Linked DNA regions of Homo sapiens: all the other regions are linked to region 1. Evidence: fine-mapped expression QTL. A gene starts in region 1. Each other region holds a variant in brackets. All regions are shown on one strand. Distances are between the middles of the regions.

What was found. PIP is the estimated chance that this variant, and not a neighbour inherited with it, causes the effect.
Region 2: its variant is fine-mapped to the expression of AGPAT4 in whole blood (INTERVAL, PIP above 0.99).
Region 3: its variant is fine-mapped to the expression of AGPAT4 in nasal epithelium (TOPMed, PIP above 0.99).
Region 4: its variant is fine-mapped to the expression of AGPAT4 in monocytes after R848 (Quach 2016, PIP 0.95).
Region 5: its variant is fine-mapped to the expression of AGPAT4 in whole blood (TOPMed, PIP above 0.99).

Annotation. Positions count from the first base shown.
Region 1 is chr6:161,271,242-161,277,466 of GRCh38, reverse strand. It overlaps AGPAT4 (1-acylglycerol-3-phosphate O-acyltransferase 4), which reads left to right and starts at 3,406. Exons shown (of 9, transcript NM_020133.3): 1 at 3,406-3,529.
Region 2 is chr6:161,162,630-161,168,854 of GRCh38, reverse strand. AGPAT4 (1-acylglycerol-3-phosphate O-acyltransferase 4) reads left to right here. Exons shown (of 9, transcript NM_020133.3): 3 at 2,438-2,607. Among named protein-coding and RNA genes, the nearest start is that of AGPAT4-IT1, 3.8 kb to the right of the region's middle. RefSeq lists enhancers at 215-810, 2,293-3,002. The variant G/A (reference allele first, on the strand shown) is at 3,047.
Region 3 is chr6:161,246,221-161,252,445 of GRCh38, reverse strand. All of the region lies in intron 1 of AGPAT4 (1-acylglycerol-3-phosphate O-acyltransferase 4), which reads left to right. Among named protein-coding and RNA genes, the nearest start is that of AGPAT4, 25 kb to the left of the region's middle. The variant AT/T (reference allele first, on the strand shown) is at 2,713.
Region 4 is chr6:161,103,931-161,110,155 of GRCh38, reverse strand. MAP3K4 (mitogen-activated protein kinase kinase kinase 4) reads right to left here. Exons shown (of 27, transcript NM_005922.4): 20 at 3,451-3,642; 21 at 2,187-2,257; 22 at 1,297-1,413; 23 at 242-401. Among named protein-coding and RNA genes, the nearest start is that of AGPAT4-IT1, 55 kb to the left of the region's middle. The variant C/T (reference allele first, on the strand shown) is at 3,106.
Region 5 is chr6:161,208,642-161,214,866 of GRCh38, reverse strand. All of the region lies in intron 2 of AGPAT4 (1-acylglycerol-3-phosphate O-acyltransferase 4), which reads left to right. Among named protein-coding and RNA genes, the nearest start is that of AGPAT4-IT1, 50 kb to the right of the region's middle. The variant T/C (reference allele first, on the strand shown) is at 3,547.

The sequences.
Region 1 (6,225 bases):
CTAAAATTAAGGCATCAGCAGGGTTGGGTCCTTCTGGAGGCTCTCAGAGAGTCTGTTCCATGCGTCTCTCCTGGTTTCTGGTGTTTGCCAGCAATCTTTGATTCATAGACACATCATTCCCATCTCTACCTCCGCCATCACATGGCCTTATTCTATGTGTGTGTCTTTCTGCATCCTCTCCTCTTTTTATAAGGACACCAGGTATTGGGTCTATAGCCCATCCTAATCCAGAATGACTTCGTCTCAGCTGATTAACATCTGCAAAGACTCTGTTTCTAAACAAATTCATATTGTGAGGTTCTGGGTGAACATGAATTTGTGGGGGACACTGGGGGACACTTATTCAACCCACTACACACACTGTAATATATATTTATAGAATCACGAAAACGGGACCATAATTTATATAAAGCTTAGTTCCCTTTACACTTAAGATACCATGAATTTCCCTAGGTCTTTCAAACACAGAATTTTAATTTTTTGTAGAGTGTTTCATCATATGAAGATTACATCATTTCCATAGCTAACCTGCTACTTCAAACACTCAGATGGTTTCCAGACTTTACTATTATAAATGGCTCTGATGAATATACATGTTCCCAAATCTTTGAATTTATCTCTGCTTATGTCCTTGGTATAAATTATTCTGAGTCGAATTATTGGATTAAGGGGTATGAACATTTTAAAGGCTCATGAAAAATCTTCTTTAATTGAATTCCAGAGATTGTATCAATTTGCCATCACCAGCAGAAGAGAGAACCCATGGCATTGCATTCTCTGCACTGCACGTTCTAGCTTTTTGAGTGTTGGACAAGTGACTAGGCAAAGAAATAACATCCTTACTTTGTGACTTGTATTTTTATGTAAGGTTGCCTCTTTGTTTACGGACCACTTATATATCTTTTTTAGGTTACCAATTTATGATTTGTGTCTCCTTTTCAATTTTTTTCTCCTCTCTCCAACTGCCAGTATTTATTTCTTACCATCTCACGGATGAGTATACTGTCCACCTCCACCCCTTTTAGAGTCCACTGTTAGCTAAGAAACTATGTAGATGTATCCTCCCTCTCCTTTTCCCATTCTCGAACCACCTCTGAATCTTGTACAAATGTCAATCATTGCCTCCATTGTGTCTTAACTGTTTACATTTCGCTTTCCCTTCTAAGACTTTGAGCACTTTGGGGCCATTTCCATGTCTTATCTGTGTTTTTGTATCTTCAGCAACTAACATGGATGCTCAATAAACATACATTGAACTGAGTTGTTACGTTGTGACCTGGAAATATTCACAATTCCTTGTATAGATAGAAATAGCTAAATAAGGGCACATAAGGATAGACTCTAAATGGCACTCAATAATGTGCATAGGGCTGGGCGTGGTGACTCCCTGCCTGTAATCACAGCACTTTGGGAGGTGGAGGTGGATCACCTGAGGTCAGGAGTTAGAGACCAGCCTGGGCAACATGGTGAAACTTCGTCTCAACCAAAAACACAAAAAATCAGCTGGGTGTGGTAGTGTATGTCTGTAATCCCAGCTATTTGGGAGGCTGCAGCACGAGAATTGCTTGAACACAGGAGGTGGAGGTTGCAGTGAGCTGAGATCGTATCATTGCACTCCAGCCTGGGCAACAGAGCAAGACTCTGTCTCAAAAAAAAAAGCATAGGATTTAATCCATGAATTTTGAATTTCTATGTTAAATTTTTAGAAATAGTAACTTTTTCTCCCATATTTCTCAGCTATATCTGAGATAACTGGGACTGAGCAACATTGTCTAGACAGGCAAAGTGTTAGCAATAATAAGTATAATAATAATTGTAATGTAATAATGGAATGAGGATGTTAAAGTACTGAGATCAGGATAAAAGTTACAATTGTCCAAATTTTAAATTTCCTATCATTTCCACTGAAATCACTGACTGTACTTATAACATTATCAGGAATTTATGCAATTTGTAGGTTTTGAAATAAATTACCATTCAGAATTCAACCGTGAAAAACAGTGTAACTCTACTTGAAAAACACTTTGAAAAACTCAAGTTTCCACCAAATCTAGAAGCACATGGGTCGTAAAACATAGTTCGAAAAGTTACGAGAGATGATGACTACAAGGAACTTTTTATAAAAATCTTTTATAAGCATTACTCTGTGGTCAAATTTATTTTCACATGGATATTAAAACAAGTTATTGCTACAAATGGGTTTCTGTTCTGATCCTTTTTTTGTTTGCCTCACATATCCTTTCTCTTCCACCACATTCTGCTTCACTCTCCCCGTCTCTCATCACAGACAAGAAAAATGCCACCTCCCATAGGACCCACTCCAAACCCTGTTTCCTGAATGATCAATGCCTTCCCCCATCGCAATCAAAAAAGCACTTTCTATTCTGTCTTCATGACACACTGGTTTTGACACTTGCATAGCTGTTAGTAATTCTGCAATGTGCTTGGGCTATTTGTGAGCACATGTATTTTTCCTTTATAGATTATAAACATCTAAAGAACAAGGTTAACCCAGGAGTCAAGTAAATAGTTAAATATTATTTTGACAATGGCTGTAATAGTGGACATTTGAAAGGAATACACCTCAGTATTTTGAAATTGAAATAATTTTCTAGATCCTGGCATTTCTGGACTTTCAACAGCCCACCCTTTTTAAAAATTGTGAAGACACTTTTACTATAAAGGTCTGCCCAGACCCTCTCTGATACACCTGTGTAAATGCCACGTGCATGTGAGCATGCGACAGTACGTGTGTGCACGCCTGTGCAGTGGTAATCAACCATGGTGCTAAGGTTTGAAAACAGAAAATACATCAATCGACCTCCAAGCTTCTTTCATCCCACTTCATAACATCTCAATCTCTTGAGTGCTGAGGCTTATTTTGTTTAAGATGATTTGGACTCTTCTGAGTGCAACGCAATCTCCTTCCAGCACAGCGGACCGAGGAGAGGTGAGGGGAGAGTTTTGAGGGTGGGCATATTGATCCTACGCTTGCTGAATTAAAAATGAGCCAACTGAGGACAATTTCCAGGTTGCAACACAGACGGAGCCGGAGTCTGGGTTGAGGTTAGAGGAGCCGTTAGGGCGCAGGGATGCAACAGGATTTGGGAGAAAGGGGAGAGAAAGCAAGGCCACTTCCAGGGGGCTTTCATTTTTTTTTTATCCTGGCAGCTTCCCGAGCCAGATTTCAAAAGCGATTTCAAACGTGAAGCCAACTGAAGCACTGCCTTACACTAATTGGAAGGGGAAGGGAGTGACTCATATTACACCAGCTCGCTCTTCCCTCTCGGCAACTGCTAACTTGTAGCTTTAAAAGGAAGTGACATGGGTGGGGAGAGACGTCAGCTGAGGACCACTTTTTTTTTTTTTTTCTTCCTGAAGGGTCCACCCCATGGGTGGAGTCTCGCTTTTTCTTTCCAGTGTTGGCTGACTTACAGCTCTTATAAACTAGTGGCAATTTCTGAACCCAGCCGGCTCCATCTCAGCTTCTGGTTTCTAAGTCCATGTGCCAAAGGCTGCCAGGAAGGAGGTATGTGGTCCTGGTGCCGTTCGCAGGCACCTTCCCCGCTGGGTGTGGCTGATGTTTGCATTCCTCTTCCCAGCATATTTTTCTCTCCTGGGCTGGATTTCCTTAGGACCTCTGGAAGGGGTAGGCTCCGGGGGCGGGGGGGGAGTGCAAGGCGGGCGGGGGAAAGGTGCAGGGGGCGCCTGGAGGGAGGCGAAGAGAGGCTCTGCTGGTACAAAAGGACCCTCGCTTTGTGCTGGGCCGGGTGAGCGTCCCTTTCTGGGCTGTGATTTCAAGCTGCTGTTCCTGGCTTCATTTACCCACCCACCCAGCCCCCTCCCGGGGCTAAAGCATTTTCTCTGCTATAGACGAAGCTGGGCGGGGGGTGGTGGTGGGGGGAATGTTCCTATTACATATTGCTCTCTTTTGTGTCATGCAACATGTTCTTCCGTCGCTGACGTTTCTATGGCAACCACAAAAATACTACACAATATGCAGCCCCGATATACATTGATTTATTTGTATTTTGTGTCTAGTTTGCAGCTTTCTGCTCTGCTTCTTGCTTTGGTTTGCTAAAATCCAGCATGGCTTGTGGCTACCCCTCCTCACTTTCATTTTGGTTTTTCCCTATCACAGGAGGGGTGGGGGAGGGGAGTTGTCAAGGAAACAGGCATTGGTAATTACCTCTCTATTTACCTAATTTTCGGCCTATGAATTTCTCCATATCGAGGAATTAAAAAAAGAATGCTTTGATGTTTATGTAAGTCTTCAGTGTCTGGTCTTTTTTTAGAAAACCTAAACACTTCTTAAGATAAGATATTGATCCTGTGGTCAAGCTAAGGGGGAATTAATTCCTTACAGGAGGTGAGATCATTGAAATAAAGTTTTAGAGAGCATTGGAGAATTCGCACTGATAAATGTGATATTGCCTGCCCAGGTTTGCCTAAAAGCTTAAATATTTAAAAGATGGGTCTTTGCTCTCATCTGCACTTATTTAGCTCCAAATCTTAAGTTCAACAAGTATGAGTAACAAATTAACTGCCGGGCAGGATTCTCCGTTTTTCGTTTTCGTGCATTGTTCTTAGATGGATTAGCCACGCTATTCACTCTCTTCAAGGTGAGGGTTGCTAGACTTTTTCAAAACTGTGGAAGGATTAACTCATCTGTGATTAGTCAACGACTCTCAGTTGGAAAAAAAGTATCTTGAGAGAAGGGAGAATGTGTGTGTTTGTGTGTGTGTGTGTGTGTGTGTGTGTTTAGGGAAATGGGAGGCGGGCAGGGAGAACAGGGCACATCTTGAGTTCTACGTTAAAAGGATTCCATCTTCTGAATATTCTCTATGGGGAGAAAAACTGTTATTCAGAAAAAATATGAAATGAGAAAATTATTATCTACTTAGTAATAAGCAAAGTTAATTATAATTAGAATCAAATAACACATCTCTTAGAAAGACATAGCCTCTTAACAGGTACCGGCTAAACTGATGCTTTTATTCAGTACGTCTAAGGAAGCGTTTGATAAGGGATACCATTCTTCTGATGGGCATCCCAAATAATTAGCTTTTATAAAATAGATAAGTAGTAATCCCATTCATGACTCTTAAAATTATCTATAATTTAAGATAAACATGTGTGAAGGTCACTTAGCCCTCATACCTTCCGGCTGCTAAAGCCAAAATCATTACTTATAAACCTTGAGCAACCCTGCCATGTGGAAGCAGGAAGAATGGGTGGTTTCAGTGAGGTTCTGTTTGCTGTGATCCTTATCTAAATATGCTATCATCTATGTCTTATCAAATCTGCTATAAATCCAGAGGTCCTAAGTAATTCAGGTAGAAAAGTTACCTGAAAATGGGGCAAAATAGCATGGCACAAAACAAACCAGAGCCACATGGAGTTAAAGACGAGAACTATTTAAAGGGCATAACACACAGAAAAGTATTACTAAAAAGAATATGACACTCATTTTGAAAAGCACATGTTAGTACACAGAGAAACGGTTGGATTGTGAGCATCTGATGTTTGCAAAGAATTCTGAAAAGCAGCCAGGCTGAAATTACTGTTTTTCCTGTCTGAAAATGGTCCTCAAGGGCAGATTTGCCACATGACCTTCCAAAGCAGATTGACAGCATGTAAATCAAAGTCTGCGATGTCGGTTCTCTTGAGTTTCCAGATTCAAAATTTCACAGCAAAAAGCCTAATGGAATAGAACTGAAAGGAAAAAGAGCAAGACTTCCTCAGAAGCACAGCCAAAACAAAAACAACAAAAAACCCAAACCCAATAAACAAACAAAACACTGTCTGATATTCAGATGCTGAGTAGAGGTTAAAGCAGTTAGCAGCTTTGGCCTAGGGAAGGTAAGTGGAGCTGTGAGTATAAAGTAAACGTAGGGTCCCATGGAAGAGGCTGACAGAGGTGACACCCAGAGGGTGAGTCAGCCGTCATTTTATTGGGATTTTACTGTCTGCAAGGCTCTGCTGTGAAGTTGGTGAAGAAGGCAGCAGTTGTAGTCTGTGCTCTCAAGCTTAAAATCCACCAAACGGGTGGCGAAAAGAAGAGCAGAGCACCCAGCTGGAAGGAAGGGGGAGGCAACAGCCAGTCAAGGAGACGCAATTAGTATGAGAAGAATACTAGAGAGTCTTCATCCTGCTGCTGAAGCTTTATAGGAGAGGAGGCAGACGGTTCAAGGGAAGAAGGAGAGGGTGTCTTAGATAGCAAAG
Region 2 (6,225 bases), 110 kb after region 1:
GCTCCACCGGGATCGGAGCCTGGATGTGTCTGACTCCCAAATCCATGAAGACAATATTCAGCAGCCATCCTATTAGCAGGCCTTTCTCCTTTCCCTGTCATGTTGTTTTGTGGTTGTGTAGCTGTCTTTTCCCTGGACAGTAAGCTGGAGGGGTGCCAGGATCTGATCTAATGTTTAATCATCTCCTGTATCTCGCAGAGTGCTTGAACGCATTAGGTAATCACGCGGCATTTGTTGAAAGCATCCATGTGCCAGGCTCTTGCTGAGTCTTGGAGTCGAGGCTAAGGTCGGGGTGAACCAAACAGTACAGTTGCTGTCTCGTGGCGCCCGTGCTCTATAGTAGGGGAGAGAACCTCACGCTGTGGTCACAGCTGTGATAGGGCTGTGGAGGGTACTGGGGAACATGTGAGTGGGGTAGGGGGCGGTGAGAGTGGCCTTAGGCAGGAAGGAGTCCCACAGAGAGGCATTTGGCCTGTGACACAAACGAAATGTGAGTCTCTTGGAAGCATCAGCTTTGTCTCCCTGACTCCCTGTGGAGTTGTGCTTTGGTGCTTATCTGTGGCCTTTGGCCAGTAATGGAGTAGATTGATCCTTCCCATCCTCGGGCTTGGAAAAACTCAGCCCAGCACTACAGGCATCTTCGTGCCCCATGGTAACAAATTGTCCCTCTGTCCCTTTGTCAGGCTGCCCTGCCAGGCTGCATGTTGTTACCCTAGCCCCCCACCCCACCACCGCCTTCCTGCCCCCACAACCAACTCCCAGGATGCGTCACTATTCCTTGACTTGTGCTTCTGGTTCCAGCAATGCTATGGCCTGGTGGGACAACTGAATGGGAGCTTGATATTTTCTCAGTTCCTAGAAATAGGTAGACACTTTTTATTGTTCATTTCTGGAGAAGGAAGGGGAGTGGTTTTCGTCGTTTTTAAGGAGACTGATAGCTTCAGTTTGCTGGGAACTTACAATGTGCTCTACGCTGAGCACATACTATGTGTTAGGTGCTTTATGTTCACAGAACCCTTTGGGGCAACCCCATTCCAAAGATGAAGGCACTGTCGTGTTAGGAGGTTAATTTGTCCAAAGTCCCGCAGTGCTCACTGCGTAAAAACTGGACTGTGATGCCTTCTAGAGGGCTCTGGTGCTCCACATCAAGCCTCCAGCTTCCAGCCTGGAGGAGAAAAGTTTCCAAGGACAGCCGCTTGAGCTACAACACTAGGCTTACTGGAGTCAAGGCCAAATCCACCTGCCTGTAGGGTAGGGATGGGGTGGGGAGGGAGTGAGTCCTCTGCTGCATGCATGCTTCACTAACGAGTGATTAAAAATGGGGGGCACATGGCCCAGTGCAGTGGCTCACGCCTGTAATCCCAGCACTTTAGGAGGCTGAGGTAGGAGGATTGCTTGAACCCAGGAGTCTACCCAGTAGGCAGCATGGCAAAACTGCGTCTTTACAAAAAATACAAAAAAATTAGCTGGGCATGGTGGTGCACACCTGTAGTCCCAGCTACTCAGGAGGCTGAGGTAGGAGGATCACTTGAGCCTGGGAGGTTGAGGCTGCAGTGAGCCGTGATCACACCACTACACTTAGCCTGGGTGACAGAGCAAGACTCCATCTCAAAAGAAAGGGGGAGGAGGCACAACCCTCGCAGAGCACTCAGGCGCCCACCCCTACTGAACACCGTCAACTTCAAGAGTCCATTTCAAAGTCCATCACCCACATTCAACTGTTTTTCTGGACAGTTTCTACCCTAGAGGCTTTTCCTGAGCCTGCCAGATTGGGAATAGGTTCCCTGGATGGGAGGCATCACTGAAGAATAAACTGCAAGTGGTCATGATTGCCTGAAGAAAGAATCTTTTTCTTTTCACAAGCCCCTACAAAGACTATTTCAATAGTTCTCTTCAGACCTGCTGTGGGCTGACTCTCACTCCCGCTGCCCTGCAGGTGCTGGGGCTCCTGCGGCTGGATCTGCCGTTCTCCATTCTTCCCCTGCCCTCAAGTGTCAGAAATGGGAGAGGAAAGTTGGGTATTTAATATTCTTTGATGGAGTTTATAAGTATCCCAATTAGTCATTTTCCAGGATATTAAGAATTCTATACCTCATCTCACGCTGCCTTTCAGAGCTCTGTAAACACAAGGGCATGAATTCTTGACGGATTCTGGCTTTCTGATTTATTTTCCCCCAAGATACTTAATCAAGGAGTAAGTCATTTACCTTCTCCAAGTATCCTTCTCTTCTTCCCTGGAGAATGTTGTGAAGTCTTTCTCGTGTTTCCTTCCGCTTCTGAACCCTTTCAAGGACCAAGGTCTGTGCTGCAACGATCCAGAACTTTGCCCGTAGAAGTTGCTTTCTCCCCTAGCTGGGAGGGCAGAGCCCTGCTCTCAGCAGGGCTCCCAGGACAAGGCTGCATGTAGTAAACATCTGTCTGTTGTGGTTTGTTCCAGAGCTGGTGATGCTGCTGGAGTGGTGGTCGGGCACGGAATGCACCATCTTCACGGACCCGCGCGCCTACCTCAAGTATGGGAAGGAAAATGCCATCGTGGTTCTCAACCACAAGTTTGAAATTGACTTTCTGTGTGGCTGGAGCCTGTCCGAACGCTTTGGGCTGTTAGGGGTAAGTCAGAAGTGCATTCCCCCCTGCCTCACACATTTCTCTGGTTCAGCCCCACCACTTGTCTTTTTGCTCCTGGTCATTCAGAACTTGCAGAAGAATCAACAGAGTTTCTACTTGATGAAATGGTCCTAATAAACTGCTTTTTATTCTTGCTGGGAGTCAGTCTTAACAGCTTCTTATGGGCAATCATAAGAGGTACTCAACAATTGCTACCTGCCGGCCATTTTACATATGATTCATTTATTTAATCCTTACAGCAACATGAATAGATGATGTGCCACACTCCATTTTTTAAAAACTAAGTTATATAGAGCTTAATATTCGGCTCAGAGTCACACAGCTGTAATTAGATTTGGATTTCACTCCCATCCATATTTCTTAATTCCATGCTCTACTGCCTCCTTGGCTAACAGGCAGACATCACCTCTGCATTTTGATC[G/A]TTGAAGGCTTAAGAACTTTGAGTCCATAAGTGAGAGAGTGAACTGCAAAATTCAGAATTATTCTGAAATTCTGTTTTTTTTTTTTCCCAACTAGTTTGACCTCTTGCACGTAGCTTGCATGCCTTTGGAACTGGGTCTCTTCAGTTGACTTTTGTCGTCTTCAACACACTGCAGCGTGTAGCGGTTGAGCCTGTGTCACATAGCTGAATCAGAGTCATCTGCGGTACTCAGGTATTCCGTAGGAATCACAGTGTACACAGTGTACATTGGTCTGGGGCTAGGAAAGGTCCTAAGAGTTTGCACCAGAACTTAGAGATCAGGTTTTGCACCTGGGAACAATGCCCTGTAGAACAGATACGGGGGCTGCTGAAATCACCTTGCTTTTTGGTAGCCCCTGAAGACAAAATCGTGGTGTTTAGAATATAGAAGATTGGAGACAGAGGCTATCAGGCCATGGAGGACATAGGGAACTAGACGGGTCTGGTTCCTGGAGGCAGATGAAGATAGCCTCCTGCCCACTGTTTTCTCCTTTTGTTTTCCTATTTATTCTCCCAGTGCTAACTTGATATCTTCTTGTGTGTACACGTGTGTGTGTGTGCAAATATATTTCTAGGAACAAGAGCAAACATTCTAGTAACTATCATTCTCTGATGTGGAGAACTTGGGCAGAGATCTGAGTTACAGCTTTGTGGATTTATTCTCTCTGATGAGAGATCGCCCCTTAGAATGTCATGGTCCTAACCCCGTCATGGATACCAGGGGTGAATGGCAGGGTTCTTCTCCTGCCCAGGAGGAAGGGTATGGGGAGCCGGTGCATCTTGACTGTCAGGTCACCTGTCTTACCACCTTTACAGCTAGGCTTTCTGAGGTGCCAGCGTCTCCTGGAATTCAAACTGTAGTTTAGAGGCAGCTGGTGATTTTCCAGGCTTTGTAAGTACTTTCTGGTAGTGTTCATGCTTAGAATGTGCAAACATTCATAATTCGTGGACCAGGAGTCTCTGAGGTAGAGCAGAAGGCCCATTGAACTTGGGGGTGCCTTCCAATCCCTGCTTGCCCCTTGGTGGCATTACACCCACGAGCTCACTCCGTGTGCTGTTCACCTTATTTCCGTAATTTCTAATCCTTAGGATATTATTATCCACATTTTATAAATAAACCCCCAGAGCCTCAGTTTGGCTGAGTGATTTGCCCGAGGACAATAGCTCCTAAGTCTGCTTTCAAAGCTTCTGCTCTTTCCCCTGGAAGATGTTGGGGGCACAAAAGCAGGGGCCCTGGGGCCCAAGACCTGCTCCAGAAACAGGACCCTGACCATCCTAAAACGACCCAGACCAGCTGCAGTAAGGACCAGGCTTCTAATACCTTCCTGGCTCGTGATGTGCAAAGGCCTCATTCGAGGGGTGCAAGTCACCCGCACCTTCATGGGGTTGGGGATGGAGTTGCAGGAGCTGGCAGAGCAGGGTCATGCACAGAGATGCTGGAGAAGCACCCAGATGCCCAGCACTAGCAGGCACGGGGACAGGCACAGATGAGGGAGAAGGTGAGCCCCACAACACATGCAGGGAGGGACCCAGGTCCAGAGAGAGGACATAGCCCCCAGACGGGAAGAGACATTCACGGAGCGGGAATTTAATCTCAGCACCGTTTAGGGTTTTGCTCCCAAAGGCTTCCGAATCCATGATCACTTTACAACTCTGAGCATAAGGGCGGGAGCGCTGATGGCGGGAAAGCAAGTCAACAGCACGCCCATCCCACCTGCAGCATAGGGACCGCACCTCCCCTTGATTTCATCGGTGATATTCTATTTATAGGACTTCACTCATTACTGTGAACACCCAAACAACTAATGCTGTGTGTAAGGGGGTCTGCGCCCTGCCACTGATGGTGGAGACTGTGCTTAGGATTAGAGTCTTCGGGGGCTCCACTTACAGGTGAAATAGGCAGGTCTGGGAGCCTGGGGCCAGGGCGATGCCTCTTCTCTTCTCACTGGAAGTTTGGGAGCCTTGCTCAGTGGGGGCCTTGGGTTTTCTGGATTCTTGCTAAAGTGCTTCCTTAAGCCCTGAGTCCTCTCTTCTCCAAACACCACAGAAACAGCCAGTGCCATTGTTATGCACATTCTCACAAAGCAAGGAGCTAGAGAGAGCAGGTGCCAGGAGAGGACTGAGTGGGGCAGGCACATGGCAGGCACTGGCTGGGGCGGATGGGAGCTGCCAGCCTGTACCCTCCCAGGGAACCCCCTCCCCATGTCACAGGGAACAGCTTTGCCATCTACTGGAGAGCTGTGGCCCATGACGGTGGGTGAGATGGCTGGTGCTCATCTCTGCCACCCTGGAAGGGGGTAAAGAACGGCATTGCCTTATATTCATTGTTCAGCAACATCTTTTGTCTTTAATGACCTTCAGAAAAAAAAAACAACCTCATTCATCTCTCTGTTTTTTCTTAAATAACACATGATGTTGGGATCCTTCTGGAGTCTGTGGAATTTGCTTTTTAAAGAGGAAAGGAACAGAAGAAGGTTCCTGACCAGGCATTTTTCATCCTCACCTATCACAGTCCAAGAGGAAATGAGTTTAAATTGAAGTCAATGAAATTTGCAGAAATTCACGAAGGTGGCATTTTTAAATGTAAAATTGGTCTTTTTGGGGAAAGTAATGGAATTGTCTTTTTAACAAAGAGGCTTTCAACCTTTTAAATGTACTCAAGATCCCATGAGGCCACTGCTCATTGCAGTGCCTGTCCCCAGAGGCTCTGGTTCTCCTGGGAGCCAGTGCTTCCTGGCATGTGCCAGGGCTCTGAAGGCTTTGGTTGATCTTGGAGTCACACGCTGAACCTTGCCTCCCTGGAGATGAGAGTGACACGCAGTCAGCTGGGGCACAGGTCACTAAGGTGCCCAACAAACCGTGGTGTGCAAGCGCAGGTCAGGTTCCTGAGGCTTCACGTCCCCATTTGCTTATCTTTTTCCCTTAGCAGGTCCCGGCTGGTTGCATAAGAGCATGATCGTTCAGTGTCTGGGTAGCGCCAGGCCCTGGCAAGCACACCATGAGCAGCAGCTATTATTATATTATCAATATTTATCTGCCGGGCCAACTGGGATATTTGTCTTCAGATCCTTAAAGAAGCCATGTGGATTAGTTATCCATGGCAGCGTGATGAGACCCAAAACATAGCGGCTTAAAACAAC
Region 3 (6,225 bases), 25 kb after region 1:
ACAATTTTTTCTAATTCATTTATAATATATTTGACCCTGAAGGAGCTCATAACCTAAAAGCAAAAGCAGAATTCAAGACACACAGAATTCATCTAGTTTATGAAGGAATTCCCCAAAGTTTGGGAATTCGCAACGTGAAACTTTTATTTACTTTTACCCAAAATAACCATGAATCAAGCAAATGTCTGGGTTGGAGAGAGGACTCTCCTATTACCACTGCAAGAAACGAGTCACTGACTGCCACCCACAACCCCATGTCAGAGGCCGTAGTTTTGTCAAAGGAAGGTGGTCTCGGGGCCTCTAGAGGCCTCGTTACACCCTCTACTGCTGCACACATTCCTGTTCTGGCACTTGAGTTATAACCATTAACCCACTTATGGAACTTAGTGTTCCATTATTGGAACGCTAAGCATGTGGGAATTATTTATATCCTCCTGCTCAAGGTCATCACCAAGGTCTGATTTTTCACTCATGCAAAAATTCAAAAAATTATACTCTCCAGCATAAATGGGTTAAGAAGATAATTACAATTCCCTACCATCATAGGCCTTCCATTCCCTAATCTGTAACAGGTAATGTATCCCTTTAGAAGAATCTAAATGGCTGCTCCCCCTCTCTGCTTTTGTTCCTCCTGCAGAAACTGCCCTATAGGTAGATTTGTAAACTATCAATGCCCTTATGTGTATCAAGAGCACGTCTCCCATGTTTGAATGGGAAACGTAAGGCCCGGGAAGTGGGCTTGGCATCCACCTGGCTCCCCTCATTCCCACCTGGGAATACGTTGGCACAAATGAACTTGCAGGAGCTCTCAGGCGCAGCTTCCATCCTCCCTGCGGGTCTTTAACCAGCGGCCGGACAGGCTGGTCTGTAATGCAGGGTAACGTTGTGCAGCCTCTGGGAGAGGAAGAGGAGATCAGGTGGAGAGGCCAAGAGAGCAAGGCCAAGGAAAGAGCTGGGGGCACACAAGCTTGGTGGAGCCCTCCTTTGTTCTGACCAGCTGAGTGACAGGCAGGTCACTTAACACTCTAGCTGTCAGCTTTCTCATCTATCAAAGGAATAGTTAGAGAATTGACCCCTACAGTTCAATTCATGTCTGTTTATTGGTATTCGATGTAGGAGAGACTGCATGGGAATCAATGAGGTAGAGAAGGATCTTTCAACAAATGCCTTGGATACAACTGGTTAGCTATTTGGAAATCCATTTAAATCTTCACAGAGGACTGTAACCAAAAATAAGTGTAAGATGGATTGAGTAGCTAAAAACAAAATTAACTATAGAAAAACTAGATAAAATGAGTGAACATTTATCAGTTTTCTGCAGGATAAGAAATAAGCGTAGAAGGAAGCCCTAAGTTTAAACATTATGAAAGAAATTACAGTTCTTACTTCATCGTAATTTAAACCTCCAATAAGCTAAGAATAAAAATAAACAAACTGAAAAAGTTGGTCACTCTAAATGGAATAGGCGAGATGTTATTCTATTTAAGAAAGCAATATGCAAGGGATAAAGGCACAATCAATAAAAAAGTCATGGAGGGGAAACAGCATTTAATAAATACTTTAAAACATGCAGCTTCATGGCCATTCAGAAATGCAGTTTAATGTAAGACTGTATAAAGATTTAATTTTGCTTTTCATTGTTTTTAAATGAGAATTCTTATTGCTGACAAACATGTAGTGAAATGGGTATTTATATATATTGCTAGTAAGAATATAAACAGCTACAAATATTTTGGCAATATTTGGCAATACAAGCAATTTGTCAATATTCACTAGGTACCTTAAAATGTTTGTTTCTGGAATGCAGAAATGTTGTTTCTGGGAATATATTGCAAAGAAATAACCCAAAATTCAGGAAAAAAAAAGGTTTGTGCCCAGAATTGCTAAACATTGCACTATTTATTCTTGAAAAAACACAAAGAAGCCTAAATATAATAATGAGGCAATTAGGTAATAATTATGATATGTCTAGTATAATTATGAGAAGGATATTTATATTCTAATATGGCAACTGAATATGATTTCACATTAAAGGCTAGAAAAGAGCATATAAAATAGATTTAAAATAAAATCTCAACTACTGTATATTTATTTTTAACTTTTATTTTAAGTTCAGGGATACATGTGCAGGTTTGTTATATAGGTAAACTTGTGTCATGGGGCTTCTTGTACAGATTATTTTGTCACCAGGTATTAAAGCTACTACCTCTTAGTTATTTTTCCTGATCCTCTCCCTACTCCCACCCTCCGCCATCTGATAGGCCTCAGTGTGTATTGTTCCCCTCAATGTGTCCATGTGTTCTCATCATTTAGTTCCCACTTGTAAGTGAAAACACGTGGTGTTTGGTTTTCTGTTTCTGCATTAGTTTGCTAAGGATAATGGCCCCCAGCTCCATCCATGTTGCTGCAAAGGCCATGATCTCATTTTTTATAGTTGCATAATATTCCACAGTATATATGTACCACATTTCCTTTATCCAGTCTACTATTGATGGGCATTGAGGTTGATTTCATGTCTTTGCTATTGTGAATAGCTGCAATAGTGAATAGCTGTGAATAGCTGCAGTAGTACTGCAATGAACATAAGCGTGCATGTGTCTTTATGATAGAACGATTTATATTCCTTTGGGTGTATAACCAGTAATGGGATTGCTGGGTCGAATGATATTTCTGTTTTTAGGTCTTTGAGGAATTGCGACACTGTTTTCCACA[AT/T]GGTTGAACTAACTTACACTCCCACCAATGGTGTATGTGTTCCTTTTTCTCTGCAACCTCACCAGCATGTGTTATTTTTTGACTTTTAAATAATAGCCATTCTGACTGGTGTGAGATGCTATCTCACTGTGTTTTTGATTTGCATTTCTCTAATGATCATGATGTTGAGCTTTTTTTCATGTGTTTGCTGGCCTCATGTATGTCTTCTGAAAAGTGTCTGTTCATGTCCTTTGCCCACTTTTTAATGGGGTTGTGTGTTTTTTCTCGTAAATTTATTTAAGTTCCTTATGGATGCTGGATTTTAGGCCTTTGTCAGATGCATAGTTTGCAAATATATCATCCCATTCTGTAGGTTGTCTGTTCACTTAGTTGATAGTTTCCTTTGCTGTGTAGAAGCTCTTTAGTTTAATTACATCCCATTTGTCAATTTTTGCTTTTGTTGCAATTGCTTTGGTGTGTTCGTCATGAAATCTTTGCCCATTCCTATGTCCAGAATGGTATTGCTTAGGTCATCTTCCAGGGTTTTTATAGTTTTGGATTTTACACTTAAGTCTTTAGTCCATCTTGGGTTAATTTTTGTATATGGCATAAGGAAGGTGTCCAGTTTCAATCTTCTGCATATAGCTAGCCAGTTATCCCAGCACTGTTTATTGAATAGGGAGTCCTTTCCCCATTGCTTGTTTTTGTCAGCTTTGTTGAAGATAAGATAGTTGTAGGTGTGTGGCCTTATTTCTGGGCTCTCTATTCTGTTCCATTGGTCTATGTGTCTGTTTTTGTTCAGTACCATGCCCATTTGGTTACTGTAGCCCTGTAGTATAGTTTGAAATCAGATAGTGTGATGCCTCCAGCTTTGTTCTTTTTGCTTAGGCTATTCAGGCTCTTTTTTGGTTCCATATGAATTTTAAAATAGTTTTTTCTATTAATAGTACTGTGAAGAATGTCATTGGTAGTTTAATAGGAATAGCATTGAATCTGTAAATTACTTTGGGCAGTATGCACACTTTAACGATATTGATTCTTCCTATCCACGAGTATGGAATATTTCTTCATTCGTTGTGTCATCTCTGATTTCTTTGAGCAGTGTTTTGTAGTTCTCCTTGTAGCGATCTTTCACTTCCCTGGTTAGCTGTATTCCTAGTTTTTTTTTTTTTTTTTTTTTTTGAGACAGAGTCTCGCTGTCACCCAGGCTGGAGTGCAGTGGCACGATCTTGGCTCACTGCAAGCTCCACCTCCCAGGTTCACTCTATTCTCCTGCCTCAGCCTCACGAGGAGCTGGGACTACAGGGGCCCACCACCATGCCCGGCTAATTTTTTGTATTTTTAGTGGAGACGGAGTTTCACTGTGTTAGCCAGTATGGTCTCGATCTCCTGACCTCATGATCCGCCCGTCTCGGCCTCCCAAAGTGCTGGGATTACAGGCGTGAGCCACCGCGCCCAGCCAGTATTTTATTCTTTTTTGTGGCAGTTGTGAATAGGAGTTTGTTGCTGATTTTGTTCTTGGCTTGTCTATTGTTGGTGTATAGGAATGCTACTGAATTTTGTTCATTGATTTTGTGTCCTGAGACTTTGCTGAAGTTGTTTATCAGCTTGAGGAGCTTTTGGGCTGAGACTGGGGTTTTCTAGCTGTAGGATCCTGTCATCTACAAACAGGGATAGTTTGACTTCCACTCTTCCTATTTGGATGCCCTTTATTTCTTTCTCTTGCCTAATTGCTGTGGCCAGGACTTTTTTTTTTTTTTTTTTTTTTTTTTGAGACAGAGTCTTACTCTGTTGCCCAGGCTGGAGTGCAATGGAACAATCTCAGCTCTCTGCAACCTCCGCCTCCTGGATTCAAGCGATTGTCCTGCCTCAGCCTTCTGAGTAGCTGGGATTACAGACATGTGCCACCACACCTGACTAATTTTTGTATTTTAGTAGAGATGGGGTTTCACCATGTTGTTCAGGCTGGTCTCGAACTCCTGACCTCAAGTGATTCACCTACCTCAGCCTCCCAAAATCTGTGATTACAGGTGTAAGCCACCATGGCCTGGCCAGGACTTCTAATACTATGTTGAATAGGCGTGGTGAGAGAGGGCATCCTTGTTTTGTGCCAGTTTTCAGGGGGAATGCTTCCGGCTTTTGCCCATTCAGTATGATGTGTTGGCTGTGGGTTTGTCATAGATGGCTCTTATTATTTTAAGGAACGTTCCTTCAATACTTACTTTATTGAGAGTTTTTAACATGAAGGAGTTCAACTACTATATATTTAAAAATAAAAAAAGCCTCTGAAATGGTTTTATCTAGCAAAGGGGAGGGGAAAGCTTTATGCATTCGCCAAAGAATAGAAGAAAACAAATCAAAATGTTGTCAATAGCTGTTCTAGGTGGTAAAATGTCTGCATTTTAGAATTGTATGCATTTTGTATAATGAATTACTGTTATAATGGAGTGACTTTACCTTTCAAGAAATTCCTGGCTTTGCCTAAGTGATTTACACGGCTAGTATAATTTCCTTTAGTTTCACTGGATTTGTGTTTTAACAGAAGATTCTTTGTTTTAAAAAAAGTCACCTCTGTGTTCCTCAACCGACATCTGAGTTCCTCCTCTACAGGGGATTCCGCAGGTAATTTGCTTTTATTTGAGTAATTTCATGTCAGTTTAACATATAGCCTCATGCAGTTTCAGTGCTGGTAGGAAGAGGACTCAACTTGGCTGCTTACAGCATGTAAAGGTATGGAGAGCAATCTTGTGGGTTCATCTGCGTGGATTTTGCAGGGAGAATAACTTGGTGTGTCATCTGCCCTGTGTTTAATGTTAATGGGAAAGAAGCCCAGGACTTTATCAGTTTATGCTCTTACTTTTGCTTTGTCTTTGACAGTTCAGTGTTACCACTATGAAAATTAAATTATGTTAGGTCATCTAGAGACTCAGATGGAATCAGTATTTATTGAGCATCTGTTCTGTAAGAAGTGGAAGGGGTGGAAGTCATCCCGGCCCAGGGTATATTACTCAGTAAGTGCTTTAGTTTATTGGGCATGGTACTTACCACTTAAAACCTAGCAAGGGGCTCTGTAAGAATCCCCTGTGCTAGGCTGGGTGCGGTGGATCACCTGAGATTGGGAGTTCGAGACCAGCCTGACCAACATGGAGAAACCCCATCTAGACTAAAAATACAAAATTAGCTGGGCGTGGTGGCGCATGCCTGTAATCCCAGCTACTCGGGAGGCTGAGGCAGGAGAATCGCTTGAACTTGAGAGGCGGAGGTTGCAGTGAGCTGAGATCACTCCATTGCACTCCAGCCTGGGCAACAAGAGTGAAACTCTGTCTCAAAAAAAAAAAAGAATCCCCTGTGCCTATGCTCAGAAGTCTAATGCAATGTTAGTATATAGTAGAACTTAAATATGAATCAATGAATTTTTAGCTGAATGAATGAACGGGTAGCTCCTTGGATGGGAACCTAATGAATGAATATACTTCTCAGTGGACGAATGAATGTATGCGTGAATTAAACAACTCTGTCCTGGATTCTGCTTA
Region 4 (6,225 bases), 170 kb after region 1:
ATTTTGGGAAAACAGATTTCTCTAAAAGCAGTGTTGAACAGAAAGAGCGGACTCCTGGGTAGAGAGACATGAGTTCTACCTTGTTTCTGAATACAGGATCCTTATAGAGGCGTATTTCAATGAAAGGTATTTCCATCTAGAGAAATCATATGTGGGAATGGGATGAGCGTCTTCAGAGCACCTCCCACGGGCTGGGTACCAGTGGCTCTGGCCCACAGCAGCCAGGCGGGTGTGGGATTACCTTTAATGTCACGGTGGACTATGCCATGCTCATGGAGGACGTTGATCGCAATGGTGATCTGCTTTGAATACAGCCTAATCACATGTTCCTGAAGTCCCAGCCTTGACACCTCTTCTAAAGTCCCCTCATCGCAGTACTCCATGAAGATGTACATTTCTTCCTGTGGGAGGAATAAAGGGCAGCTCTGTGTTTACGGTTTTCCTTAGATGTACGCTAGTGAAAAATCTGGAAAACTTCCTAGGCCACACCCCAAAGGAATGTTCTTTCTAACGGTATACTACACTTGCCATCCTGAGCACTGAATGTGTCTCACAACAGTCGTTTCTAAGTCCTCTATAGAGGTGTCTGCCTGCCTCCTCTGTCTGGAATTATACAGCTCTTGGGGATAAGAACATCTCCAAATCACAGGGGATCAATTTCTATTATCCTCTGAAATTAAGTCTGCTATATAATCTCAGACAGGGACCAACAGGGCTGTCCCTACAAATACATTATTAAGTACTGAAACACATCCTTTTTAAACATAATTTGTAAAAACATTAAAAATGATCCATTTCCAACTTCCCCTGGAAGCTCATGCTCTACACCACGATGCTCCAAGTTATCCTCTTTCCCTCGACGTGTTTATTTCTAAACACAAGGAGGAAACTCAATTTGAGGTTTGAATTTTCTCTCATTTCACAATGGCTCCCTAAATACATACAAGAAAAAAACCAGTATTACTTAACAGTGTACTCAACAGTGGTTCAGCAAAAAAACGGAAAAAAAGTCACAAGAAGTGGTGTAAGGGGCGTTTTAGAAGAATCTTCTGAATGGCAGGATGGGTTTCAGTGCTTTATGATGTCGGGTTAATGACTACAGTCTACAACTTACATTTTAGGAGGAACTCCTCTAGTTTCAGAGAGAAGGCAGAAATGATGTAACTCATGGAGATTTCCTGAGAATTAGGCAAAGTTACTGTGCTCTGAAATGAGAAGACCTGTGATGTAGAACAGGACTCCATTCTGTGCCCTCACTGATTCCTCACACAAAGAGTGGCATTAGGGTCGGCTTACTCTATGGAGCTCCACACCAAAATACCGAACCAGATTGGGGTGTTTGATGCCTTCGAATATTTTCAATTCGTCTGCAGTTTCCTTGATAGTCTTATGGTCATTAGGTTGAAATCGAATCTGTAAAGTGAGGTGACAAAAATGTTAACTGGCTTGATTTAATCACTCTACATTATACACATACACTGAAACATCATTTTGCACCCCATAAATATATGTAATCATGATTTGTCAATTAAAAACAACAAAAAATTAAGTAAAAAGGAAGTTTTTAGCCAAGCTAGAGTGAAGTCATAGAAGTGCGGGTAGGTCCCGGGCACAGAGGAGGAAGAGGCCCTGCTCCGAGAGGGAGTGAGGAGCGCCATGTGGAGGAGGACGCGGCTCCACGGCAAGTGCAAGACGCTGGAGCCTCCCCTCTCCACTCCTCTCCTCCTTCCACGTCAAACCGGATGTCTCCACAGACAGCAGTGAGTCCTGTTTCTACTTCAGGTTCCCTGGCCCTTTCCCCATCCTACCTCCAGCGGTTTCAATGCCACTTGTTTCTGAAGCTTATCATAAATGTTATCTTCTCCCCCAATGTGTCCCCATAAGACACTACTGTTAATCCTCTCCTCTAAGCCTTCATCAGACTCAGCTCTGCCACCCTCATAGGCCCTTCTCACACCTGTGCTGTTAGAACTGTCTGTGACTTATTATCCTCTCTGGAATCGTAAGCCCCTTCACTGTCTGTGTGTGTTATCTCAGTGCATCTGCCTGGTTGGTCCTGACTGTCGCAGTGCTGGTGCTGAAGACAGCTCTACGCACAGAGAACTGAATCACGACCAGCGTCTATACGGAATTTCTATCACCCAGAGCCGCCAGGCCCAAAGGCCCCACGGAGCCAGGTGACTCACCTCTTTCATGGCCATCAGCTCCCCGGTGTCGACGCTGATGCAGGTGTACACCTTCCCATACTGGCCTTCTCCTGTGAACAATGCAAACAAGCTGCACTTCCAGCCACTGCAGGGGGCTGTCTTACATTCCTTAAACTTGTAATAATACTGTCCAATTATTTTGGACGTATATTTATATATCTATAATTATGTTTACTGCAGTTTACTATTGCAAGATCCAAAATTTTTCTAAATGTTCCCTGATAACTAAAGTTTTAGGCAATCTCTTTAATATGTCTTACCTACAAGTATCTTTAAATAGAGCAGAACCGACTTTGGTAAATTCCAGGAGAAGCATGAAAATGACCAATAAAAGCAGCCTTGGTGCACACCTCTGAGCCCTCACACCCCTCAAGGAGATCTTGGCTGGGGCTGGGAGCAGCAGAAAACAGCCAGGACTAAGCCTGACCATTGTCTTCCTCACTGGCACATGTCCAGGAGTGTGTGGGAGCAAACATTCCCCTAACATACCTTCTGGGACATTAAAGCAAGAGGATATGTGCCTGGACAAGACTGATAACAATAATTAATCCAATTTATAAAGTACTTGATTGTTTTCAGTGGTTTTTGCCCTCCTTGATAGCTCCAAGGAAACATCAGGTTTCCTCAGGCTGACAAAGTCCCATATTATTCATACAACTGTGTTCGCCCCCTTCAGACCTAGATGTGTGACAGATAAATATATTTAAGTGGGGAAAGGATCTGAAACACAAGACTTCTTCCCTCACATAATTTACGACTATTTTACATGAAGCAATTCCACCTGGAAATTAATTAATGAGGCAATGTTTTAGAAAAGAAGACTGTCTTGCCCTCATTTGTATCCAGTCTCTCTTCAAATCACGTTCTGCGTGTGTGTGTGTGTGTGTGTGTGTGTGTG[C/T]GCGCGCGTGTGTAGAGAGAGAGAGAGAAACTAGAACAAATGGGTCAAATTTTGGTACCTCTCCACTGGCAAATTCCAGGGTTATTAAGCAAAAGAATCCAATGCAATGAATCATTTAGAAATCTCTTTCTCATTCTAAAATCTCATTTTGTATTGCTCTTAGAATACATTTTACAAATTAAACAACCAAAAAAAATCCAGACCACTTTGCAAAAAGATAACAATGCATACTTGCTATGTCTACAAGAAAAAAGGGCCAACTCTATAGGATTCAACCTAAAGAAGTATAACTATTGCTACTTCTAACAGGGACTATCTTGACATCATGCTCCTTAATTTCCTTACCAATTTTGTTTCCTCTTTGCCATTTGAAGGTCACCTTCCTCAAGCCAACGTGCATAACATTATCATAGGACTTAGGCGTATCACAAACTTGACCAATGATATTCTTTCTCCTCATTTCTCGGTACCTCTTTTCTTCAAACAATCGGACTGACTTCTGGATAGCTTCTATGGGTCCTAGTTTAGAAGCAGTATCTGCAGAGAGAACCAAAACCTCATTAGTCCCAATCACTGTTATCAAGTCAGTTTCCAAAAGACAAACCAATAAAAATAGAGCAATATATATTAGCACTCCATTACAGCAAAGCTTATTATCTATTCAGATAAACAGCAGGTGAATTAAAGTTCTTCAAACGCTACTCATTCCAGCATATGCCACCCCTTATACAGTACACACATAAAATATAAGCTAGTCACACAAAAATGATTTCCTTTCCCAAGAACGTTGGCTAAAATCTTGCAGTAATATACATGTCTCTAGTTTCTCCTCTCTCCATTCCACACTCTTGTTTGCCATATTATTAAAACATAAAATGTGATCATGTTACTGTCCTACATAAATTTAATTCACGAGGCCTGGAGCAGTGACTCATTCTTGTAATCCCAGCACTTTGGGAGGTGAGGTGGGCAGATCACTTGAGCCTAGGAGTTCAAGACCAGACTGGGCAAAATGGCAAAACCCCATCTCTACAAAAAAATACAAAAGTTAGCCAGGTGTGGTGGTGTGTGCCTGTAGTCCCAGCTACTTGGGAGGCTGAGGTGGGAGGATCCCTTGTGCCCGGGAGGTAGAGGTTGCAGTGAGTCAAGATTGCACCACTGCACTCCAGCATGGGTGACAGAGTAAGACCAGGTCTCAAAAAAAAAAAAAAACAAAAAACCAAAAAACTTAGTTCATGGTTCTCCACTACCTACTAACCAAATATCCAAACCCCTGCAGAATTTGGACCCAGTTTGTCTTTTCTATGTTTTCACACTAGCCAAACTGAAAGACTCTTACAGAACACACCAAACTACTTTACTTTTCACTTCCATTACTTTTACACCTTTCCCTCTGCCTAAAGTATCTTCTTCATACCTGAGTATCTGTTGAGTGAATCTTACTCACACAGTGCAGCTGAAATGCCACGCCTCTTCTAGGAAGCCATCTCTGATGAGAAGGATTTTCCCTTCTCTGGGAAGAGTACAGAAAAAGGGCTCTAGAATCAAAATGCCTGGGATAAAATGCTGGCCTCGCCATTTTCTAGGTGTTTGACAATGGGCAAGGTAATTAACTTCCTCACACATTAAAAACCTAATCTGTAAAATAAAGATAAAAATACCTATCTCACAGACCTACTGTGAGGATTTCATGAAATAATACCTGTAAAGCATTTAGCCCAGAGGCTAGAACACAGTAAAACTCAATAAATATTAGCTATTGCCATTATTCCTCATTTTCCCACAGGCAATTTATCTCTATTTCTCCAACTTGTTTTATCATGACTCATACTAAGAAATACCTTTCACACATTTAACAGTTCTGTGAGCTATTACCCTTACTACATGTGATTCTGATTTCATCCTGTTCTTTTTTAAAAAATGTTGATCACTCCTACTAAAATTTTACAACCCACTAATGGTTCACAACCCATAAATTGACAACCATGGTTTGTCCACTTCTCTATGACAACACTTTTCATACCATATCCTAATTAGCTACCCAAGAGCCTATGTTTTCTGGCTCAGATGAAGAGATCCTTGAAGGCTGGGATGACTCTAAGGTTAATCTGAAAAGAGAAATTCTAAAAGATTTATAATGGTCCAGTTATAATTTCTTATTACACTCATTTATTTAAAATACGGATCCAAGTTTGTTTCCTTTACCTCAATATACAACACTGCAAATCTACCCAGCACAGGGCAAGATTTTGACAGCAGTGAGGCCATGGGCTCCACTGACAAATATTTCTGAGAAACGCTTAAAAAAAAATTTCTCAAGATTCCTTTTTTTTTTTTTTTTGAGATGGAGTCTCCCTCTGTCACCAGGCTGGAGTACAGGGGCACGATCTTGGTTCACTGCAACCTCCGCCTCCTGGGTTTAAGAGATTCTTCTGCCTCGGCCTCCCAAGTAGCTGGGACTACAGGCGCGCACCACCACGTCCAGTTAATTTTGTATTCTCAGTAAAGACAGGGTTTCACCACATTGGCCAGGATGGTTTCGACCTCTTGACCTCGTGATCCACCTGCCTTGGCCTCCCAAAGTGCTGGGATTACAGGTGTGAGCCACTGTGCCTGCTTTTTTTTTTTTTTTTTTGGAAACGGAGTTTTGCTCTTGTTGCCCAGGCTAGAGTGTGATGGCGCGATCTCAGCCCACCGCAACCTCTGCCTCCTGGGTTCAAGCAATTCTTCTGCCTCAGCCTCCTGAGTAGCCGGGATTACAGGTATGTGCCATCTTGCCTGGCTAATTTTGTATTTTTAGTAGAGATGGGGTTTCTCCATGTTGGTCAGGCTGGTCTTGAACTCCTGACCTCAGGTGATCCTCCTGCCTCGGCCTTCCAAAGTGCTGGGATTACAGGCGTGAACCACCGTGCCCAGCCCTTGGTCTTTAATATGTCAATGTGAACTGTAACTCTCACAAGAGAAACATAATTCCAAGTGGTTCCCAAGTTTACTTGACCACAAAGTACTTGATTTGAAAAATATGGCAAAGACCTGGTATCCGTGGGAACTGCTGATTACATGTGAGCCACTGAAGAAACTGTCTTCCTGTCACCTGGCTCAAGCCTAGGAAAACTCCCC
Region 5 (6,225 bases), 63 kb after region 1:
TAGACCACATTTACAACGGTGTCTGCTAAGATTGTAATACAGTATTTTTGCTGTGCCTTTTCTATGTTTATTTTATTATTTATTTATTTATTTATTTTGAGACGGAGTCTTCCTCTGTCACCCAGGCTAGAGTGCAGTGGCACGATCTCGGCTCACTGCAACCTTTGCCTCCTGGGTTCAAGTGATTCTCCTGCCTCAGCCTCCCGAGTAGCTGGGACTACAGGTGTGTGCCACCATGCCCAGCTAATTTTTTTGTATCTTTTAGTAGAGACGGGGTTTCACCATGTTGGCTAGGCTGGTCTCGAACTCCTGACTTCAATTGATCCGCCTGCCTTGACCTCCCAAAGGGCTGGGATTACAGGCATGAGCCACCATGCCCAGCCCTATGTTTAGATACACAAATAGTTACCATTGTGTTACAGTGACCTACAGTATTCAGTACAGTCACATGCTGTACAGGTGAGCAGCCTAGGAGCAACAGGCTTCTGAAACCCCCAAAATTTGAGACAGGCCTCAGTAAATTTAGAAAGTTTATTTTGTCAAGGTTGAGGATGTGTGCCTGTGACACAGCCTCAGGAGGTCCTGACAACATGTGCCCAGGTGGTCAAAGCACAGCTTGGTTTTATACATTTTAGAGAGACACGAGACATCAATCAACAGATGTAACATGAACATTGGTTTGGTCTGGAAAGGCAGGACAACTCGAAGGAGAGGGGCTTCCAGGTCACAGGTAGGTGAGAGACAAATGGTAGCATTCTTTTGAGTTTCTGATGAGCCTCTCCAAAGGAGGCAGTAAGATATGCATTTATCTCAGTGAGCAGAGGGATGCCTTTGAATAGAATGGGTGGCACGTTTGCCCTAAACAGTTCCCAGCTTGAATTTTCCCTTTAAGTGATTTTGGGGGCCTAAGATATTTTCCTTTCACATTCCCCAACACCCCCACCCCCACTTTAAAAAATTTTTTTGGAGAAAGCATTTTAGAAGAAGATGAGTCTCTGTTCCCAGGTTTTGTCTGATCTCTCATGACTAGGATGGCTTATTCCTAGACAGGTAGGATCTAAGTTATTAGGAAAACTCATTTTTATAAGGTTATTCTATGAAGAGAAAATAGAGGAAGGAAGACAAACAACAACAAGCAAAAGAACAATCCTGGAAAAATCAATATAGGCCACATTACTCTGAAGCCCATACATCAGTAGGCAGGTATGAAAGTGGCTTATGTATGTAAATAGATTGTTGTCATTTTCTTTTGAAGTTTAAGTTGTCTGGCTTCAGTTCACAGGGCTTTACAAAAGCACAGCTTAGTTTTCAGTGACTCCAAATTAGGAAAAATTGGGAAAAAAAGGAAGGAACAAAAAATTGAAAACATTATTTTGAAGACTTGTAGCCCAGAAAACTTAGAATTCAGTCCAAACTGTAGAAAATAATAAAAATTGAAAAATGTAAGATAAAACTAGAATCTAACAACAGGTGTACTATAGTTTTGAAGCATAATTATTCTCTCTTCAGTTTCCCATTTTTACTAAAGACAAATCATGGTAGGACTGGTTTGCTTTATTATACTTGGCCTAATTATTTGTATACAGTGCAGCAAGAATAATTATTTTTACAAAGGCTTTTAAATTGGCTTTGATGGAACTGTGTTCCATAGGAGGAATCTCAGATAAGACTTTTTTAAAGCCGAGCCCAGCCATGGATTTGTGCCATCAAATACCTATGAGTTGGGTGATCAGCTCCTCTTGAGGTTCCAAGATAAACTTGAGGCTCCTGGACCTGCCAGAAAGTGACATTGTTTACCTACCACAGGTCAGGAACCCTGTGCAGGGGCTGTGTAGACAAAGGTATGAGGCCAGTTTTTTCCAAGGGGTTTTTATTGGCTTCATAAGTCAAGTTTGATTCCTTAAAGGAAAGCACACCATTACAGTCAAAGTCTTGGTAAAATAAACAGTTTCTCTGATTGTGGCCTGTTACAGTGAAAATTGATTCTTACTGCACTTATGCAAATAACTGTATTGTTATAAGTTAGTTATCAGAAACCTGCATTTAAGAACACCTGTTAGAGTTCTATAGCTGATTATAAAACCACCTTCTAAGGAGGACCAAAACAAGACAATTGTCCATGGATGACAAAATGTATTAGGGTAGCCATAGTGAAAGACACAATTGACAAGGAAATTTGTTACCTTGTGGCACACTAACAATTTAACATAAAAATTATAATTATCACTGAAAATGTACATTAAGTCATATTAGAATTACAGGAGTTTACCCTGATTTTGGAACACATACCAATAACATATTTATACAAATACAACCTAAAGGAAACCAAACACCATTTCGTATTTGACAATGTTTCCTGTATAATTTTTATACCAGATAAGCCAAATTATGTCACTTTTGGACTTTAGGGAATCTAATGTCTTAAAGGATTAATTAGGTAAGAAAAAGACATAATTTATAATTTGATTTTGGCAAGTTTGTCAAATAACAAAGGTTTAATACTATTGATATCATAAAATAGGGTCATTCATTTAACTAAAGTGATAACTCAAGGATTTCAAAAAAGGCAAACATCTTCATTCTTTGAGAGAGGAGACTTAATGTTCCAAACAATAAGCCCTAATAAAAATAGCACAAAGTCATTTAAATTTGTTTTTCAAAATTTTGTAAACAATCTATAAAATTTTAATCTTGACCATAAGATACAGCTTCCATAAGCCTTTTATAACCTTTATAACATTTACTGAGGAGTCAGTTAATGCTTCAAGAAAACTTTGTTAATTTGACACAGGGGCCCATATGCTAGTCTTGCATCAGTGTGCCCTTCAACATTAATGATTAATTTATAGAGAAACTGAACTTATTTTATCTTTCAAAATCGACCTTTACAATCTCATGCACCCACCTCTTCCACAATACTCTCTGGGCCTTGAGTTGAAATGGCTTTAATTTCTGGCCCTGTGTCTCAGGAATGTAGTTTATTTTGATTGGCATCTTCTACAGGACCTGAAGATGGGGCTTTAATTGCTGTCAGTGTTTAAAATTTAGTAGGATTTGGTGTCATTTTTAGACCCAGGACTCAAAATCCTGTAACTCAGTGTCACAAGTACTTTAAAAGTGCATGCAGAGAGATATACAGATGAAATAACCTTAATTAAAAAAATTAATTTCAGTTTTTTCCTAAGTAAACCAAACTTAATAATAATATGACAACTTGATCATATAAACGTTTTTTTTAAAAATCTCTTTTTATGACTTACACAGACTGTTCATGACATGCTTGGACTTTCTAGTTTGTCCTGAACGTCCCTCTTTCTTAAATAACCAGTCATTTTACTCTAGGACTAAATTTACCATACAAGATTTTTTTCTCATATGAAATTATTTCTCTTTAAGCTTTCTTGCCAAAGAAACCTCTGTATTTTTATAACTTTCTTTACATCTCTTTTATTTCCTCATTCCTTTTACCTTGTTTTATACATGACTTTTAAATAAGCTTTGAATTAGACAAAAATTGTTCATCTTCTTTTTTAAAAGGACACACTT[T/C]GTTTTTGGAGAGAATGTTTTCTATTGGCAAATACCCAAATAATGAAATATCTATTATTTAATTTAATATAACTTTAGATTCTAAATTATGATGAGTTTGTCTACAAGTATTTATCCTATAACATTTACCTAAGTATTTTATTTGTTTAGCTAGATTATTTATGGAAACTGTGATAGTCACCATTTAAAGTTATGGTACCACTGTTGGAAAATTATAACTGAGACCGTGAAAAAGATTTGACGTAACTGACTCCATCTTGCTTTTTACCTCCAAGCTGTCCTTGCTCATTCCTGGGCATAGGCCAAATTAACTTTTGGAGGAACTTAGTTTATAGTTTAGTTTTGAAACAAAGATGATAACAAATTTTACTGCCTGTGGGCTAGACTGCCTAAAGCCACAAGATTAGAAGTTACAGTAATCTTACTAAATTTGAGATGTAGCTATTTTTATTTAACCAATATTAATGTCTTATTTGTTAAAGAGTACACAAGAAAAGATCATTCTGATTTGGGCTGGGTTTATAGTTTTGTAACCCCTATGCCAAATTTTTGACACCTTATAGTATTTGGCAGGGATAAGTATGAAATTGCTTGATTAATAAATGCAAACAAAAATATATGCTGGCAATTTTTAAGACATTTCTAATACTACTTTACCAATAATTTTAAAGCTAGCTTATTTATTAAATATATTAGTTAAGTTACATAAACTTGAAAAAGCATTTGACTAGTCTCTTCCTTTTTCCTGATAAAGTATTTGATTCAAGTGCTTTAGTTTTCTTAAACTAATTAATTGGAACTCTTTATATATTTTCAGTAGTGAAACATTGTGTACACAACACATAAATACATAGACATATTAGGCATGCCGATAGAAGTACATCTTATAGATTCATAAAAACCTTTTTTGTTTTATCCTGTCTCAGACTTTCAGATTCTTGATAATCTGTTTCACAATCCTAGGCAGCTGTCAGCTAAATAGCCTTAAATTTGCATATTAAAGGAAACAACTAAGGTGTAAATCAAATAGCAAAATTTACATTATAAAGTACAGAGAGAAAAAGTCTGGTGGTACTAGAGGGAAATTAAAGATGGATGCCAAATCAAATGTAAAATCATAGAAATCTATCATAGGATTGTATAAGGAGACCAGGTTTATTTAGATAGGGACTTCCTATCTTTTAACTGGATCTCTGAACTCTGGGCAAAACCTACACTGAATCCTGGGTCTTCAAAAAGGGAGAATTATTATGAGGTTAGACGCTTTTACAGTGCACTTAAAAAAATTTTTTTTAAACAGAGACGTTCCTAAGTGTCTAAACCATACTCTTCCTTAAAAATCCAAGAATAACCTCTGTTGCAACTATTTTAGTCAAAACAAAACAAAACAAAACGAAACAAAGGGGTCTTGGCTATCTATGTCTCTGTGGTGTGAACATACCAGTGCCCTGTTTCACCTCCTGATATTTCTGTTCTTCATCACATCCTGCCTGGTCTCTGACCAATCATCTATTTATGCCTTGATTGACTTAATTCATTTATTCAACAAACGTCGGTTGAACACCTGCTTAAGGTACATACTGTTCCGAAAGCTGGACAGACAAATGAGGACCCATTCCGTGCTCTTTTGGGGCTTATATCTCCATGGGAAAATCGAAGGCTTTGCCTGTCTGACCCTCGAGGAGCCTGTTCGGGTCTGACATGGAGTCTTGCTATGAACATGCTATGAACATGCTCAATTCAGGTCTCTCCTGGTCTGTGCTTTCAGAGTCCCCCTGTTCTACTGGTCCCAACTCCTCATTATGCCCAAGGCTGTGGAACAGAGTATCAGGATCAGCAACAAAGGGAACAGAAAAGTTCCCTTCTCTTTCTGGCTTTGTTAGAACAATCAACGTATTTTACAGCTAAATTTGCAAAAAATTTTCTAGCAGCTTGGCAAGGCTTTCCTCATAGAGGAGTGGTAATGAAGCCCTTTTATCCAGCTCCATGGCTCATACAGTGTCACAGCTGTTGGTGAAATTGATAGGTGCCCATGGATTAATTCAAGCCCAGTAGAGAAGAAAGCAGCCATCACCTCCAAGCAAGCCTTTGGGATTCCTCATTGTGGCTTTCTGCTCAGCTCTTCTCCAGAGGGTGCTGGAGTGGGGGAACTCATGTCACTCATCAAAGTTCCACTTCGATGAGGAATGCCTCATTCTAGCACCAAAGTGATGTCTGCCCACTTATCACCAGGTTTCAAGCTGATTTATGGGCAACCCAACTTCTTTCATTTGGTTTACACTTTTTTTTCCTTGAAAGTCAGCCTTTCCTGTTCGATGTGCGTTTTCTTCCCCAGTAATTAACACAAGGTCATGATTGCCGTTTTAGGGACTCTTTCTGGTGTGGGTTTGCTTGTGTTCCCCAATGGTAGTTCTGATTACATTGTTTCACCTGATTATTAATGATTTTTTTCCTGTTAGGCAGCTGTGCATTTCATCCTGGCCTTCGGCTTGAATTGTTACAAATTATGAATTGATAGACTTCAAATCAAATTTTATTGTGCCTTATGTAAATACTTGGGAAATAATTTTTTATTTAAATAAATCAGCACCAAATAGTTTTCTTTTGAACACATAGACTTCTTTTGCATTTCTTTTTTCTGAATTGTTTTTCTGTTGCTGTGAATCTTGAAGATCTAAG